Linked DNA regions of Homo sapiens: region 2 is linked to region 1. The links come from fine-mapping of genetic effects on gene expression. Tissue or cell type: esophagus muscle. Region 1 holds a variant in brackets; the other region holds the start of a gene. All regions are shown on one strand. Distances are from middle to middle. Region 1 holds the start of GSTCD-AS1 (GSTCD antisense RNA 1). Region 2 holds the start of NPNT (nephronectin).

What was found.
Region 2: it holds the start of NPNT, and the variant in region 1 is fine-mapped to the expression of NPNT in esophagus muscle (GTEx, PIP above 0.99).

Annotation. Positions count from the first base shown.
Region 1 is chr4:105,825,376-105,833,714 of GRCh38, forward strand. GSTCD (glutathione S-transferase C-terminal domain containing) reads left to right here. Exons shown (of 12, transcript NM_001370181.1): 8 at 297-425. GSTCD-AS1 (GSTCD antisense RNA 1) reads right to left here and starts at 1,797. Exons shown (of 4, transcript NR_125927.1): 1 at 1,738-1,797. The variant A/G (reference allele first, on the strand shown) is at 3,844.
Region 2 is chr4:105,891,265-105,899,603 of GRCh38, forward strand. It overlaps NPNT (nephronectin), which reads left to right and starts at 4,207. Exons shown (of 12, transcript NM_001033047.3): 1 at 4,207-4,459; 2 at 6,637-6,737. The coding sequence starts at 4,389. RefSeq lists silencers at 2,916-2,965, 3,890-4,459, 4,620-4,829, 5,068-5,362.

The DNA.
Region 1 (8,339 bases):
TGCCTCGGCCTCCCAAAGTGTTGGGATTACAGGCGTGAGCCACCACGCCCGGCCCACGCTGTATTATTATTGCTTGTTTCACTTATATCACTATGCTTCAAAGCTATATCACTATAGTTCAAAGACCTTTCATTTTTCCTTTCTGTACCAGATTATGTGACATACTTCCTGCCACAGAATAGAGGCTCAATATAATACGTTCTACATTATTAAAGCTATGAAATATAGTGATAATGCTTTGCCTAATGTCTGAATTATGTTACTAAATATACTATTGTTTTCTGGGTAAAATCTAGGTTACATTAATAGAAAACAAGGAATTATCATTAATTCGTGCTAAGAAGAGAAGTGATGAACTGGGTTTAAGCAACATTTGGTTCATTCAAGCAAATATGGAATATTTTACTGGGATGTTTAATATTGGAGTAAGTAATCAAGTAATTTCAATTTCTTTAATTAGCTAAATAAGAAAAATTACATGCCTTAGAGTAAATAAAAAAGATAATTTTGTGTTCTTTGCCAAACAAATTTATAATTTTGTATACTTATATTATCTATGAAATATAGCATATTAATGAATATTATTATATTCATAGCACTTCATCATTACATAACAGAGATAACATTGGCTCCTCTATCAGACCAGAACTTTATTTTCTTCACTACAGAATCCCCAGTAGCAAGTGCTGAAAACTGGTTAATAATTGAATAATTGATTCTGATGAACATGACTTGCCTTGGTTTATTCTGCATTTTTAGAAGACAATGAAGGAAAAGAAAAAAGAAGAAAAGAAAATAACTTGTTAGTAATCTCTAAATACAAGCATTGCCTTGTGATTTTTTTTAGCTAAGATTTTATATTTACATGTATTTTCAGGTTCCAAGAGAGAAAGTATATTGATCATGTTTCTAAACCTTTGGATCAAATTGTTATTATTTGATATTATGAAAAATCCCTAAGATATGTAATTCTGCCTGATCATTAAACCCCAGGGTTTTATTATTTTTTGTAGACTTTGAGTTTTATGAACATGTTAGTGTTGCTGCTATTTCTTATATTTGCTTTAAATAATTTTTTTTCTGATTTTGATAGGAATATACATTTTGATAGTAATACAGAAAAATACATAGTAATATAAAGAAGAAATAACCTATATGCCTACTATCAAGTGATAAATACTATCAAAAATCTTTAGTTTTTTATATTTATGCACGCATATAAATGCATATTTTACACATATGTGAACATTGTTAAGACCATACTACATAGATCCTGCATTGACTGAATACTGTTAAAAATCTTTTACCTACTTTTTAATCATACTTTTTTTTCTCATTGTTATAATGCAATTATTACTATGATGGATATTTTATGCATCCTTTAAGAATTTTGATGCATTTGCCAAACCACTTTCCAGGAAGGTTCTTACTGACATCCTTTCTAATTACATATGTTCATATAAACATGTGGTTGTCTAGGTAGAACTTTTATCAACTTAACTAATTCAGACCTTTTATAGTATTTCTGATTTTTACCCAGTGAAATTTATTTCTTAAATATTGACTACTGCAAATTTGGGGGTTTATTGTAATTTTTTTCCAACCTAAAAAATATGCTATTCGTTTCCTTTGCAGACACGATCTACAGTTTACTTCTCTTTTTATAAGCCTGGCTGTTAATAAGGAAATTCAGGAAAATGTAGACATGTAATCTAGAAAATTCAAATTAAAAAATACCTGTGCAGCTTTAACTTTACATAAATGTTGAGGTAAAGTTTAGCGCTTCTCCCATGAAACAAGCCATTAAACCAGTCCAGATATTACCAGTACACCAGACAGAATGGTAGCAAGTAAATGTGGACTGCTACCCATTTATTTACCTCACAAAGCATGGAATTTCCAGCCTATGTCTGTTCCATCCGTCTCTTGGCCCTTCATGACTTATAGATGCTAAATCACTCTAGCATATTCTTGTAACTTCCAAGTGTATAATTTACTAATGCCAACTAAAAATGTATATATCTCTTTGGAAGTGAAATTTTTCTCTACATTTTGTAATACATCTATAATGACTTTTTTTCCTTTCATAATTACCCTTGTCAAGGTGTATAGAAAATGGATTAAAATTGCTTAGAAGGTTAAATTAAAAGTAGATTCACTCTGAAGAGAATAATTTGCCTAGGAGAGTAATTGAGATATTGTCACTAGGTAAATTAGACTAAATGCATCAGAGGTTCTAACTCCTGTGTTAAATGTGTTCCAGTATACACACAAAAAAATTTAAAAAATATTGTGGCTAGAGAGGAAAGCAGAATAACCAGATATTGGAAATGCATTAAAACTGCATAAATTCATGGTTTTGTGACATTTCAATAAGGGCTTAGTTAGCATTTATCTTTGCTTAGTAAATGCTTTATTTTTTTCATTTACTATTTTTCTTTAGATATAAAAATTAATAGTATAAACAAGATTTTAATGAAAGAATTTTAAAAGACTTAGAAACAACTAAGTCTTTTTAAATTATTAAATTTTATAATATGTGTATTAATACCCATGCTCTCAAACAATATTACAAATATTTATTTGCAAATAGTATTACATAAAGGGTCATGACTATGGAAAAATGCTCATTTTGCATTAAAAACAAAAACCGTATCAAGGCTAAACAGCCTGCCACCAACATGTTTAGTTGGAAAATTTCAACAATAACAAACAGTCATTTCAACCAGATGATAAGGTACTGATTTCTAACAGTATTGGCGAATCCTTTCTGTTCATCAACATGTATATGAAAATCTCAAAACAGTTTTATTTTCTAGTTATTGGTATTTGCTTTTTGCTATTTTGCCCACAACATAATTTTTAATTATTGTTTATCACTCATAAGTGCTGACTAGTTAATTATAAGCTCATTTCTATTTATGTATGTATGTTAGTGTACAATTAAAAGAAGCATGTGTAATTATAGACTGTAATTCAGTAACATTTTTGATGAGTAATTATATAATCCTTGTTTTAAAAGATAAGGACCTTGAGAAATTATATATTCTGCAGGCACGCTTTTTAAAAATCATTAAGGCAAAATAGGGGACTTCTGAGATGAAAATAGCAGATAGAGGTATTTCAACCCCGCTTCTCCCCAAAAAAGTTCAGATCCCCAAATAACAAGAACAAGAATCAGAAAAATCAAACTCTATGATGAAGCTATATTCAACATTCTGTAACTTGAATCACAATATGAAGTGTGAAGGTGAAAAGCAGATTGAAGAAAAATGATAAGTTATTGAGTAGAGGAGAAGGAAGATAAAATTTAAATGCATGCCAGGCAGAGTGGCAAGAAGGCTATCAGGACACAAACCACTTTGCTCCCACAGAATCCCAGAAAAGTTTGGGAATTCAGAGCATCAGAAACCTCAGAGGAAATGAATAGGGAGGGACTGAAATCGTGTTTAATTAAAAATATTATTTAGAGACAAGATTCCTGCTCTCGTCTTGTGTAAACAAGAAACTACCTCTCCCCAACTCCTAAGAGAGACAGGAAGTTTATTCTGTAGAAGAAACTGAACCAGAGAGGCACCAAGTATAGAGATATCAGGCATAGAGAAGGGCAATGGTGATGTGCCATACCAAGAATAAGAACTAAATGAGAATCTGCATACTGAAGGATAGATCTCTTCCCTACCCATCTGCCTTCTAATTCCAGAACCACAGAAACCAGGATCATTTCCACAATCATGAGAATTAAAAGATTCTTCTCTGTAGAAGCAGAACTGTCCCCAGAGAAAAGAACTACAGATACTACAGCTATAATTAAAAAAAAAAAAAAAAAAAAGAAAGGCACCT[A/G]TCCAGGCTTTTTGATCACCCAATCACTGGTGAAGCCCACCAGTTTTCAAAGCCTTACTCTTTCATTCAGAATTTCCAATCAACTTTTTAGTGGTTTACTCTTTAATATGAACAGCTAAAGGAATACCAAACATGGAAAACTTCCAAAATGGAAGATAGAGACCTGTATTAGTCTGTTCTCACACTGCTAATAAAGACATACCCAAGACTGGGTAATTTATAAAGAAAAGAGGTTTAATTGATTCACAGTTCCACATGGCTAGGGAGGCCTCACAATCATGGAGGAAGGCGAATGAGGAGCAAAGTCACATCTTACATGGTGGCAGGCAAGAGTGTGTGCAGGGAAACTCCCCTTTATAAAACGATCAGATTTCATGGGACTTATTCACTATCATGAGAACAGCATGGGAAAGACCCACCCCCATCATACAGTTACCTCCCACTGGGTCCCTTCCATGACATGTGGGAAATATGGGAGCTACAATTCAAGATGAGATTTGGGTAGGGACATAGTCAAACCATATCAAGACCAAAGCAACAAACATAATCAAGGGTCTTAGGGAGAGACTAAAGAAGATAATACATTAGTGAAACAAGGATATAATAGAAAAAGAGGGAACGATCAGAGAACAAGAAAGGACGTCTTGAAAAATAAAAATGTTAGCCAAAATTGAAAACAAATTAAAAATTAAGAGATAAAGTATTTTTTTAAAGAAGTATAGGATACCACTTGAAAAAAATAGAACTTAAAAAAAAGAAAAAGAAAAATGAAACTGGAAAGAAGCAAATTTTTTAAATTAGAGATTTAGTCCAGGAATCAAATACCTCAGTAATAGCAGGACCAGAAAAAGAAAACTGGTAAATCGTGGGGAGGAAAACATCAAAGAAAATACAGGAAAATGTGTTAATAATTAAGAATGCATTTCTTTTGATAAAGTTAACTTACAAAATGGCCTAAGCCAAGGCACCTTGTGAAATTTCAGAACACCAAGGGTGAACAGATTTTCCCAACTGTTTCCACAGAGGGAAAAAAAAATAGTGATATACCATAATTTAGAATCAAAATGCTATCACACTTCTTAATAGTAGTGTGGAAGGCTCAGTGACAGTGAAACAATATCTCGAAAATTCTAACAGAAAACTTCTAATCTAAAATTCTATACCTAGCTAATCCATCAGTCTAGTAAAAAAAAGTAAAATAAAGAAAAATTCGACAGTCAAGGTCTCAATAAAATGTACATTGTACATACCCCTTTTCAGCAAGCTACTAGATAATGTGCTTCATTAAAATATAAAGTAAATAAGAAAAAGGATTAAGTGGTATCCAATACAAGAGAAAAATTTTTAGTATCATGGGAGAGGGAAGTCTTAGGGCAAGAGCTGGGCAACAGGCCTAGAAAGCATTGAGTCCATATTTTAGTAAAACGTCAGAAAGCCCAGGAAAGATGTCTCTAGGAAAGAAAAAATGGAGCTGACCAATTATTTGAAAGTTTTCAAACAGTGGAAATTTATATTGTAGAGCATTTTACAGAGCTTTTGGGTAGGGAACAACTTGGATGTTAAAAAAACAAGCAGAAACCCTGATATCCAGCACACTTCCCTCGGCAGTGAACAGTATATACAAAACCATGAGAAAAGATGGAAAAAGGGAAGATAGTGTATAAATGTGCAAAAAAAAGGCCAAAAGCTCTTCTCTCCTAGTAGAAAGATAATAAATAATGTCTAATATTTACAAATCAAGAGATATCAATATACGTTCATCATATAGAAAAACAGATTTTCAGGAAGTAAACCAATGAGTTGAACAGCATTGACTTTGGTACACAGATTTTCTTTCAGTGGTGTGGCAGTGTGTACAAAACAGGGACTTTTAATATAATTGCATACCTTTTAGCATTATTTGAATTTTAAAGCTGATTACCTATAATATTGTTGTATGAAAGTTTTAAAAGAGGGGAAACAAGAGTACACAGGTGGGACTAGCCTGCTTCTCTGTCTAAGGTATCTAGAGTTAAGAATCCTTCTTCGAAAAGCAACACCGGAGAGAATGATTGGGCTGGGGCAAGTTTAGAGATCATTCAGTTCAACCTTCTCCTTTTACAGGTAGAGAATTTGAGGCTACAAGAAAGGAAGAGTGACCTAGCAAGTTAATGTGGGGGCTGGGTCTAGAAGTCCAGTCAGTGACTCTCTGTTTACTTCCATATCTAAAGAAAAGAGTAAATAGAGCATAGAGAACTAAAAAAAGAAGTTTGGTTTGGAGTCAGACACATTGAGATTAAATCTTGGCTCTTTGTTAAAAAAAATATTAACAATTATTTCTCTTACTTGGAGCAATATTGACCAATTTTTGTTTAAGAACTCTTTGCTTGTTTTTGTTTGTGTGTTCACATCTCTTGCTCATTTTACTCTCACTTTATTGGGCTTTTTCTTTCTTTTTAGAAGTTTGTTATATATTAAGAATATAAGCCTTTTGTTTGTGCTGTAAGTTGTCAATCCTTTCCCTACTTTGTCATTTGTCTTTTTACTTATGGTTTGGTTTTCTGCCAGTCTCTACTGAAAATACAAAAATTAGCTGGGTGTGGTGGTGGGCAGCTGTAATCCCAGCTACTTGGGAGGCTGAGGCAGGAGAATTGCTTGAACCCTGGAGGCAGAGGTTGCAGGGAGTCGAGATCACACCGTTGCACTCCACCCTGGGTGACAAGAGCGAAACTGCATCTCAAAAATAAATAAATAAATAAAAATAAATTTTATTTTGTCAGATTTATTAACCTTACCCCTTATTGCACGTAGATTTTTAGCTTAGTTAGGAATTACTTCCCATTCCCCTTGGTTGTGCAGGAATTTACTCATATTTATTGCATTTTAAATCTCTAATGCATTCAAAATTTATTTCCTATGTGTGATGAGAGGAAAAGATCTAATTTTTATTTTTTTATATGGCTGTCTGGTTAACCAAACATTACTTATTAAAAAGTCCATCTTTTCTCCCTGGTTTGAAATACCACCTTTATTGTATGATAAATTTCCATATCCAATGGTTTTTTTTTGGTCTATATCTCTCATTATTTGCCTGTTATTTCTGAGTTTCATTTGATAACAGTGAAAACTAGGAGCATGTGATGCAGTAAAACCTTTTCGACCAAAAACCTATTATTAGTAGACAATTATTACATTATCTATAAACTATTGTATAGTTATTCAAGTTACTTATTTCATTTAAATGAAGGAAATAAACTCACTTTTTTGCATGTAGTGTAAGGAATGTGAACCTAAGTAAAGAGAGACTTATAAAAGTAAATTTTCTAAACTCTTTTTTGCTCAGAGCCTGAAGAGGGTTTTGTAGAGAAGCCGCCTGATACATGGGGTCAGGCTTTGAGGTCAGCATCCTGCCCCTCAGTAGCTGTTTTGTTGTGGGCAAGTTCTTAATTTCCCAAGACTTCATTTCCTCGCATCTAAATTGGAGATAATAAAGTCTTTCAGGGATGTTGTGAGCATAGTTCTGAGTGCCATCACCCAGCACAGCATAGTGCCAGCACATAAACACTCAGTAAATGTCAGTTTGCTTTCCCTCCAGGGGAAGATGTGTCTATAATTTTTACTATGAAATTTTCTCCAACTAGTCATGAAAATAAGGATTAGCCTGTTTTTTACTCTGAAAAGCTGACTAAAAGAAGCAGATGAGAAATCAAGGTTATTTACTTTCCCATTCCCTGTAGTTGTTGCTGCCTTTACTGGATACCAGCCTTCCTAGGCTGTTTTCAGAGTGAAACAAGAAAGGTGGGATGACAGCAACATGGAGATTGTTGACTTCTATGTGGCTCATGTAAGTCTAGAAGGAGGAGGAGGAATTCAGGAGGAGGATTAAGAACAGAGATCTTGCTTTCCTCTTCCTGATAGAGTATTGTTTGTATTGTTTTTAGCTTTCCAGTTCAAAGGGGGCATCTGGTTTATAATATTTTACTTTCGCTGGGCGCGGTGGCTCATGCCTGTAATCCCAGCACTTTGGGAGGCCGAGGTGGGCGGATCACCTGCGGTCGGGAGTTGGAGACCAGCCTGACCAACATGGTGAAACCCCATCTCTACTAAAAATACAAAAGTATGCAGGCGTGGTGGCACATGCTGTAATCCCAGCTACTCGGGAGGCTGAGGCAGAAGAATTGCTTGAACCCGGGAGGCGGAGGTTGCAGTGAGCCGAGGTTGTGCCATTGCACTCCAGCCTGGGCAACAAGAGCAAAACTCTGTCTCAAAAAAAAAAAAAAGTTTCTAAAATTTACAGAAAATCTCCTCTTTACCCTGAGAGCCCCTCCCTACCCTGAAGTTGGTGAGGGAAGATTATAATTCATTACAATTTATGTTTGTTCAGAATGAAATGGAGATGTGAGGGGTTTTTTTGGTGTTTTTTGTCAAAATCCAGTACAGGTTATTCATCTTTTAGAATCCCCACATCTGATTTTCACTGAGAGTCCTATTTAGGCTTTATTTGGCCTAAGAATTTT
Region 2 (8,339 bases), 66 kb after region 1:
TCATAAAATTGTTATCTATAATAACTTGGAAGGCACATCACATATCCAAGTCAAAGGAATATAGTTGTAAAAATGAGAATGTTAGCGTACTTCACTGTTCTTTGTTGATTTAAGTAAGGTATCATAAGAAAGATGAACTCAGGCAAGAACTGGCTGCTTTGCAAGCAGAAATGGAAGGAAGTGAGAATGTCCAGAAATTAAGGGCCTCTCAGGGCTGAAGAAGACAGCTGTTTTTGTGACCCAAACATTAATAAAAATGCAGGGATCCAAGCCTTGTGGCAAGGATCAGAGTAAGGTATCGCCCTCCTAAGCAACACTATTATTTCAGCTAGCCTCAAGGTGGCCCTCCATTAAGATGAGAAAGTAAAGTATGGATACAAGGAAGCAAAGAAATAGAGCAGCCTTCAGAACTAGGACTAGAAAAGACTTTGCTGTTATTTCCACAAGCAACTGACTGGAAGCAATTAGATCAGAAGCCTATTACGGTTTTAAGGAAATCTAGTTGCCACAGAAACCATGAATCTGTTAGCTCCTTAAAGCAATACTCAAGCCTTCAAATTTTTATCAGCAGAAAAGGGGTTGTGAATGATATGCAGCCCCCTAGGAAGGCATTTTCTGTAACAGTCACTTCTGATATGGCTATGGAAAATTATGGACAAGGTAGTTCCTCTAAGAGAAGCAGAGTATCCCAAATGTCTAACCAAGGCACTTTCTGCACTGCCAGAACAGAGAGTCTCCATAATTCTTGCTCAGCTGTGAGTCAAAATTGCTGTGAACAAGAAGCTATGTGTATCTTTATCTTAATAGGAGCTTTTAAAAGCAGTCATCCTATGCCTGTGCCACTACTGTGTATGGGGTGTGGGAAGAGAGGGAGCAATATCTTGTTTAATGGTTTGTATGACACCAACTATGAGAAGTCATTTCAGAGCTTGATAGAGAAAACACACCGCTCTACTGTCTGCGTGGACATGGGCTGCATCCCACACCCTCACGTGGCTCTCTCCCTCACTTCATTCAGTCTCTGCTCAAATGTTACTTCCCCAAAGGTGACCAAAGCACTCCATCTACAATCACACCTCCATCATTTTCTACAACCGTAACCTCCCTTTATCCTCTCCTTACTCCTTTTTTCTCTACATAGTCCTTCTGTATTGCTCCCCCACTGGAATGTAAACCCTTTCAGGGCAGGACTTTGTCTTGTCCTTAGCTGAAATCCTAGCACCTAGCTAGAAATGGCCAATACATTATAGGTCCTTAATAAATATTTACTGAAAAGAAAAAAGACTATGAGCTTCTAAATTTGAAAGGTCTGAAGTTGTGTTTGTTTGATTCTGTTTTGCTATTTATCTGTATCACATTATGAATGGTCACAGAAAATTATTTGTGCACGAGAAAATTGAGATTACTACCTGCAAGGTGTCATTACCTGGTAAGAAGCCTATCAAAAGTTTGTCCTCCTGAAAAAGTAGTTATTGCTAAAAGCTAGCTGTTTTGATCTCATTCTTGCTCATTTGTTTTTAAGACTGAGATAATGAAATGTCACTCCCATGGCAACTCTGCCTCTTTTTCGGAATGATCATTGGTGGTCATAGTTGCAGCATAATAACCAGTTAGACCTTGGAAATCCTTTAGATTCTCCTTATTCCATGATTTAACAAAGACTGATATAATTAGCTACATTTTACTGAAGGGAGAAGCTAAAGTTCACAGGCAGAATTCAATTTAATCCAATCCATCTGTTTAATCTTTGCTGAACTTAAGCTTTGTGCCAGGCATTGTGCTGGGGATAAGGGATATAGTGACAAGACAGACACTGCCCTGGCCCTTCTATTGGTTAGACTAATGTCTCACGGGACCCAGAGTGGTAGGGAGGCAATGACAACACAATACATTAAGAGCTACCTTAGAGCATGCTAAGTGTAATAGAAGTATATAAAACACTAGTCTCAGCCAATCAAAAAGTCAGAAAAGGCTTCCTGGGGGACTGTCGGCTAAATTTAAACTCAAAGGGTAAGGGGAGATTGTCCAAATGAAGAAGGAAGAGGAATGAAGAGGAGGCTAAATTTAAATGAAGAAGGAGTGTTTTCTAGGCCAAAGCAAATATATGGAAAACAAAAGAAAGACGCATGTAGATGGGGCATTACACTTTTCCCTCCAGTTATTTATCCTGTTTTCATCCACCACTCTTCGTCTTTTCCTTAGATCTCCAGTTTTTTAGCCGTATATTACCCCCTTTCTCTCTAATCATCCATTGCACACAGTGAGGTTTATTTGTAAATCTAACCCAGGCACCAACTAACCAACCAACAAACAAAAACAGCTAAGGAGTAGCCACTGGAACCTGGAACCATGCCTACACTTACAAAAATTTGATTTTCTGCAGAAAAAATATTTTGACTCCTACATTTTTGGACTTCATTAGAAGGACCTGAAATGGATGACACCAAGCTGTTTGCCTAAAATAATGTCCCAAGCCTGAATTGGCATGGATCTTTCTTGAGATTAAAATAGAAACTTGTTTTGCTAACTGAAAACAACTTAGAAATCAAAGAGCCATTTAAGTTGAAACCATTATTTTTCCTTTCCTTGAAGAAAATTCCTGTTTTTACACACACTGAATGATCAGGATAGTGAATCACCCTACCACAGAACTTTCCATTAAAAATTTGAAGTTGTAGAAACCTCAAAAAGAAAATGAAGATGGGGGGAAAACGTTTGTAATGTAGCAAATGAATTGAATAAACATTTATGAGCACCTACTATGTGCCAGGCAGTGTTCTAGGTGATAAAGATACCTGCCTTTGTACAGCTTGCATTCTAGCGGAAAGAAAACATACAAACAAAAAATATGCAAGTTATATAGTAATATAAAAGATGAGTGGTATGGAGAAAAGACAAAGTAGGACAGGCCAAGGATCATCAGAAGGAGGGCAAGTTAGAGGTTTAAATAGGATGGTCATGACTGGCCTCTTCAAAGAGGTGTGACATTTGAGCAAAGACTGAAGGAAGTGAGGGCGTGTGCCATGTAGATATTTGCAGAGGGCAAGTTGCAGTTTTAAATAGGATGATCATGATTGGCCTCCTGGAAGAGGTGACATTTGAGCAAAGACTGAAGGAAGTGAGGGTGTGAGCCATGTAGATATTTGGGTCCAGATAGAGAAAACAGCCAGTTACTGGCCCCAAGGCAGGGGCATGCCTGGAACATGCAAGAAAGGCAAGGAGGCCATGGACTGGAGGAAGAGAAATGAGGACATTGAGAGGTACGGGAGATGACAGATGATCACTGCACAAGGCTGTCATTCGAGGTAAGGTTGGGAAGAGGGGTGACTTGATTGGGCTCATGTACATCTTAGGATAATCATGTTTTCATTTGAACACAGTCATTTAGTACAATACTTTTTACTCTGCAACAACTGAACAATGATTACTTAAAATGGTTTCTAAGTGATCCCCTCAAGATCAGGCACCACAACACTACTAGGCAGTAGCAGCCCTTCCTCTCTGGCAGGCACTCATCCCTAGAGGGGCAGTCCTGTCCTAATGTGCTCGGGAGTTGAGCTGATAGAGACAGAAACAGTCTGCTCATTTCTTCTTCAAAACCCGACTGGAGAGCCAAATATTTCTTTTGGTTAGTTACAAAATAAAAAATATGCCTTTGCCAACTCTGCGGGAAAAGCAAACTCCCAGAGTTTGCCTTCGCTAATTTGTCCAAGTCGTGCTGTGGTTTTAGTAAATGCAGACACTGCTCAGCTCCAGCCCCATAAACCTCTCTGCTCTAGGGCTTCTCCGCCCTCCGGTGAAAGCTACTGCTCGCCCCTGCAGTCACCACCTGTTCGGGCGGAACCTGCGGAGCGTGCACCTACGCCTCGGGCTCCTTTCCTCCTCCACTCCCCTTTCCTGCTGGGCACCCTGCTTTCCCTCTCCCAGAGAGGGTTTGCAACTTTTCTCCCAGGCTGGGGCTCGCCCTGCTTGGCTAACCCCCAAGAGCCACTGCCGTCCCGCAGCGCCCCTGCCCCCGAGTTGCCTGCCCCGCTGGGCCCCCGGGAGGAGCGGAGCGCGCTCACCCTTCGCCCGGGGCTGGGAGGGCGGCGAGTCGGGCGCACGCGCACCCCCTGCCCGCCCCTGGCGCCCCTCCCCGCGGGCGGTGCAGCTACCCCTGCAGCGCCTCCCCTAGCTAGAAGGGAGCGGGAGGGGGCTCCGGGCGCCGCGCAGCAGACCTGCTCCGGCCGCGCGCCTCGCCGCTGTCCTCCGGGAGCGGCAGCAGTAGCCCGGGCGGCGAGGGCTGGGGGTTCCTCGAGACTCTCAGAGGGGCGCCTCCCATCGGCGCCCACCACCCCAACCTGTTCCTCGCGCGCCACTGCGCTGCGCCCCAGGACCCGCTGCCCAACATGGATTTTCTCCTGGCGCTGGTGCTGGTATCCTCGCTCTACCTGCAGGCGGCCGCCGAGTTCGACGGGAGGTGAGCTGGGCCCCGGGGCGCCCTCTCCTCCTTCCCGCGCTAATTTCACACTCACTGTCTTGGGTCACTTTTCCCCGCGGGGTTTCGTGGTCAGAGAGGCGTCTCCTCCATCCAGAAGTTGGGCCACCGCACAGCGTGGCGCGAGGAGAGCGGTCCAGCGGCTCCGAGTGCCCGCCCGAGGCGGAGAGGGCGCGCCCTTGCGAGTCTGGGACCCCATCCGCGGCCCCCCGAGGGCGACTCGCCCCGGCTCGGGAATTAGGACTGAGGGAGAGGAGCCGCTGGAGCCTGGGATCTCGGCTCTGAGGGCGCGGTTTAGCCACCTACGCCGAGGTGACGCGCGAAACATCCCTTACCCGGGAAACTCCCGCGCCTGAACTAGACGGCTCTTCACTGGGGAAGCTTCCAGGCCCCCGGGGGGAGGCCCGGGCTCTGCTCAGGGCTCTCGGGGCCGCTCACACAGAGAGTGGGTGCGAGTCAGCGACTGGGCTACGGGGGAGATTTGTGGGCCTCTCCATTTGGTTTTCTTGAGGGAAGGAGACTCAAAATGAGGACCGGAGGGTGGGCGCTCCGTGAATGTGAGCATGAGTGTGTGGATGTGTGTGTGAGAGCGCACACACTGCGCCGCTCCTCAGACTCGGGCGAGCCTGACGGCGGCGTGCTGTGACAGGTTCCAACAACCTCGGGCCGCGTCTCCGCTGTCACTCAGCCGGTCCTCCCGCGCTCCGGGGCCGCTCCGGTGTGTGAGAGACACTGGGTCTGTCGGGAGGGTGTGCTCGGTCCCCCTCACCTCTGTGCAATTACAGACTAGGCTCGTCCCGGGTGCAGATGGCTGCTGCGAAAAGAGGTTTTACTCTGGCGCACACCGTCGCCCGGTCGCCTTCCTTCAGCGACCTCTGCCCCCACCCCTCCGTGTAGGTCCCTGCCTAGTCCTAAAGAAAGATGCCGCACCTGTTTTACCTTTAATCTTGGAACGAATCAATTCCACAATTGATTCGCTTTCTTGTACCCGGAGGCGAACGGAGGGGAACCAGTGGAGCGCCAAGAAAAAGCACAGCTGCTTGTTCACTACCTGGTCGGAGGAAATAGAAAGTTCGGGGTTATTTTGTACTTTGGGCCTGGGGGTAGAAAGGCAGGTAAAAGAAAAGGGGAATTGAAAAAGATAAGGAGACTTTAAGAAAACGTGATAGCAGCCAGAGTGTAGACCTTTTTATTTTATTTTTAAAAGCAATTCTGTGCTCACATTTGGGTATGTTATGCATTTCTTGCACACATATTTGCAACAAGAAACCCATCACAAGATATGCATATGATGTGAATGCATATAGCTTTTTGTAACTTTAAAAAGATGTCTAAAACAGCAAATTAAAATGTTGATACCCAGAGGAAAAAAGTCATTTAGGTGTGACTCTAAACAAGGAAACAATTTAGCAAATAATGTGTCAACGTGTAATCAGGTGGATAAATCTGTATCCTGAAATTACTTTCTTTAGGCATTATTTACATTAGAGAGGAAAATACTATGAATTGTTGATCTAAGCACGTTTCAAACCACAAGGATACTTGAGATATCAGCTACACTTTAAACTCTCCTTGGTTTTATTTAGACTTTTTTCTAGTACTTTTTTGTTTTTTTTGTTTCTGCCACAGTTATGTCTCAAAAAGAGCTCTGTTACACTTGATTTTTGAGAAACCTTTCTGCTCCTTCCCCCATCCACCTTTTATATGAGGCAGAAATTTTTTCTGCTTTGACATGTCTTACTTAATACTTTTCAGTTTATGGTGAATCAGTCAAACCTGGCTTTCACCCCAGTAACAGGTGTGGGTCTTTGAGGAATCTGTTTTATTTCAAGCTTCAGAAACTATCCTGTGAGTGGCAGCCTTGAGAATTGTTGGTGTTAGCTGGTGCTATTTCTACTTAAGAAAGCATCTTTCCCTCCCGTTTTTTCTCCTACCCTTGTGTGTTGGGGGATGGGGTATTTAACTGTCTGAAATTTGACATTAGATCATAGCAGAACTATTTCTGTGAAGGTGTTTTAACCTTAAATTTCTGCAGGCATAAAAGAGTTTGTAGAAAATTGTTGGGTGTGGTTGACATTTTTTCTGAAGTAATAATACAGAGGAAATTACCTTTCTTCTCAAAAGTGTCCTTATTTATTTTGAATCTTTTTTTTTGGTAGGTGGCCCAGGCAAATAGTGTCATCGATTGGCCTATGTCGTTATGGTGGGAGGATTGACTGCTGCTGGGGCTGGGCTCGCCAGTCTTGGGGACAGTGTCAGCGTGAGTATCAAGCCTGGGGACTTCAGTTCCCTGGGAGGTGTGGCTTTCCACCTTGTTCATGGCTTCACCCCACATATCAGAGGGTTCATTACTGAGCAAGGCTTGGCCTTGCAGGTCTGACTTGGGGATTTTCAGGTACAGTCCAGACTCCTTATTCTGCTTCTTTTCAGCTTTAGCCACCTGTATTACGGCCCAGCTTTGTCATTCACAGAGAGCCACCTTAAATGTTTCTTTTAGCATTTTTCCCCCCAAATCTGCATCTCCTTCCTGTTTTCTTACCAGGTTTATTTCTCTCTCTCTCTCTCTCTCTGTCTCTCTCTCTCTCTGTCTCTCTCTCTCTCTCTCTCTCTCTCTCTCTCTCTCTCTCTCTCTCTCTCTCGCTGACTCGCTTGCTCCAGGCTGGGAGATGGGGATAAGATAATGAGTCTAGACCGTATTTACACTGGGGATAAGATAATGAGTCTAGACCGTATTTACACAAAATAAACTCTGAACCTTAGAGTACTTATATAATCCTCACCATAGCTGTTGTGTAAAGTGGCCCATTTGTAAATCCTTTTTTGGACTGGGGTTGTATTGACAGTGTTTTAAATGGACCACCCAGTATAATGAAACAAAGCCACTGAAACAACATTATTTGTAAGTTCTATAAGTAACCAACCTCATGTAATAAGTACCAAATCAGAAAGCTGATTTTCACCTTTTCTGTGACCACAAATGGATATTTTAATGGTAAAATTTAGAGCTACATCAAAAGAGTTTGAGAAATTTAGGAAATTTGTCCCCAGCATTTTATCGCGATCTTAAAATTGTATCTCACTCCTACTGCAAAAAAATAGTCTTCAAATGATCAAGTACCTTTCCAGAGCACCCTTAGAGTGCTTGGGGCGGGGGTAGGGGGCACTTCTGGTAAGATGATGGGAACTAAGTTGGGTTCTACATTGGGATATATATTTTATTGCTAATGAGGAGGAGGCTTAGAGGAAGAGAGAAGGGCAGTTACGAAGGCTAGAGCTGGCAATGGAGAAGCCTGCCTTAGAGATGGGTTGCTAGTGTGAGGAGTCAGGCAAATTTAAGTTCAGGAAAGTTAGGAGTTCCCTCTGCTATTTTAATTTTTGAGGATGCTTGCAATGTCTTCCTTAATTTTGTGAAAGAGGGACAGTGACAGTCACAGATTGACTCTAATTGCACATAAAGACCACAATCTCTGGTTGGGAATAGAAAGGTAAAGGAAATGAATGTTTGCCTACCTGGTATGGAATTTGAGAACCAACAGATTCTAATAACCAAAATGTGAAGAAAGGACCCTTCTGTTGGCCCAACACACCTACACATAACCCTCCTGAGTGAAAAATGAGTAGTTCTATACCTGCAGTCTCCAGCTGTGCAAATACTTCTGATACTACAGAAGACTAAATTCCACCAGGCACCATTCTTCTTTTTTGATCATCTTCCCTTAAAACAATATTGAATAGACTAACCAGTGAGTGTACAGCAGCTTTGCCTACTTCTTTTGTTTACTGGAAACTGGAGTTACCACCATCTCCCTTTAACAGAATGTAATTGACCCCCCGTGCAAAGGGTCTAGCCAAGCAGCTCGCA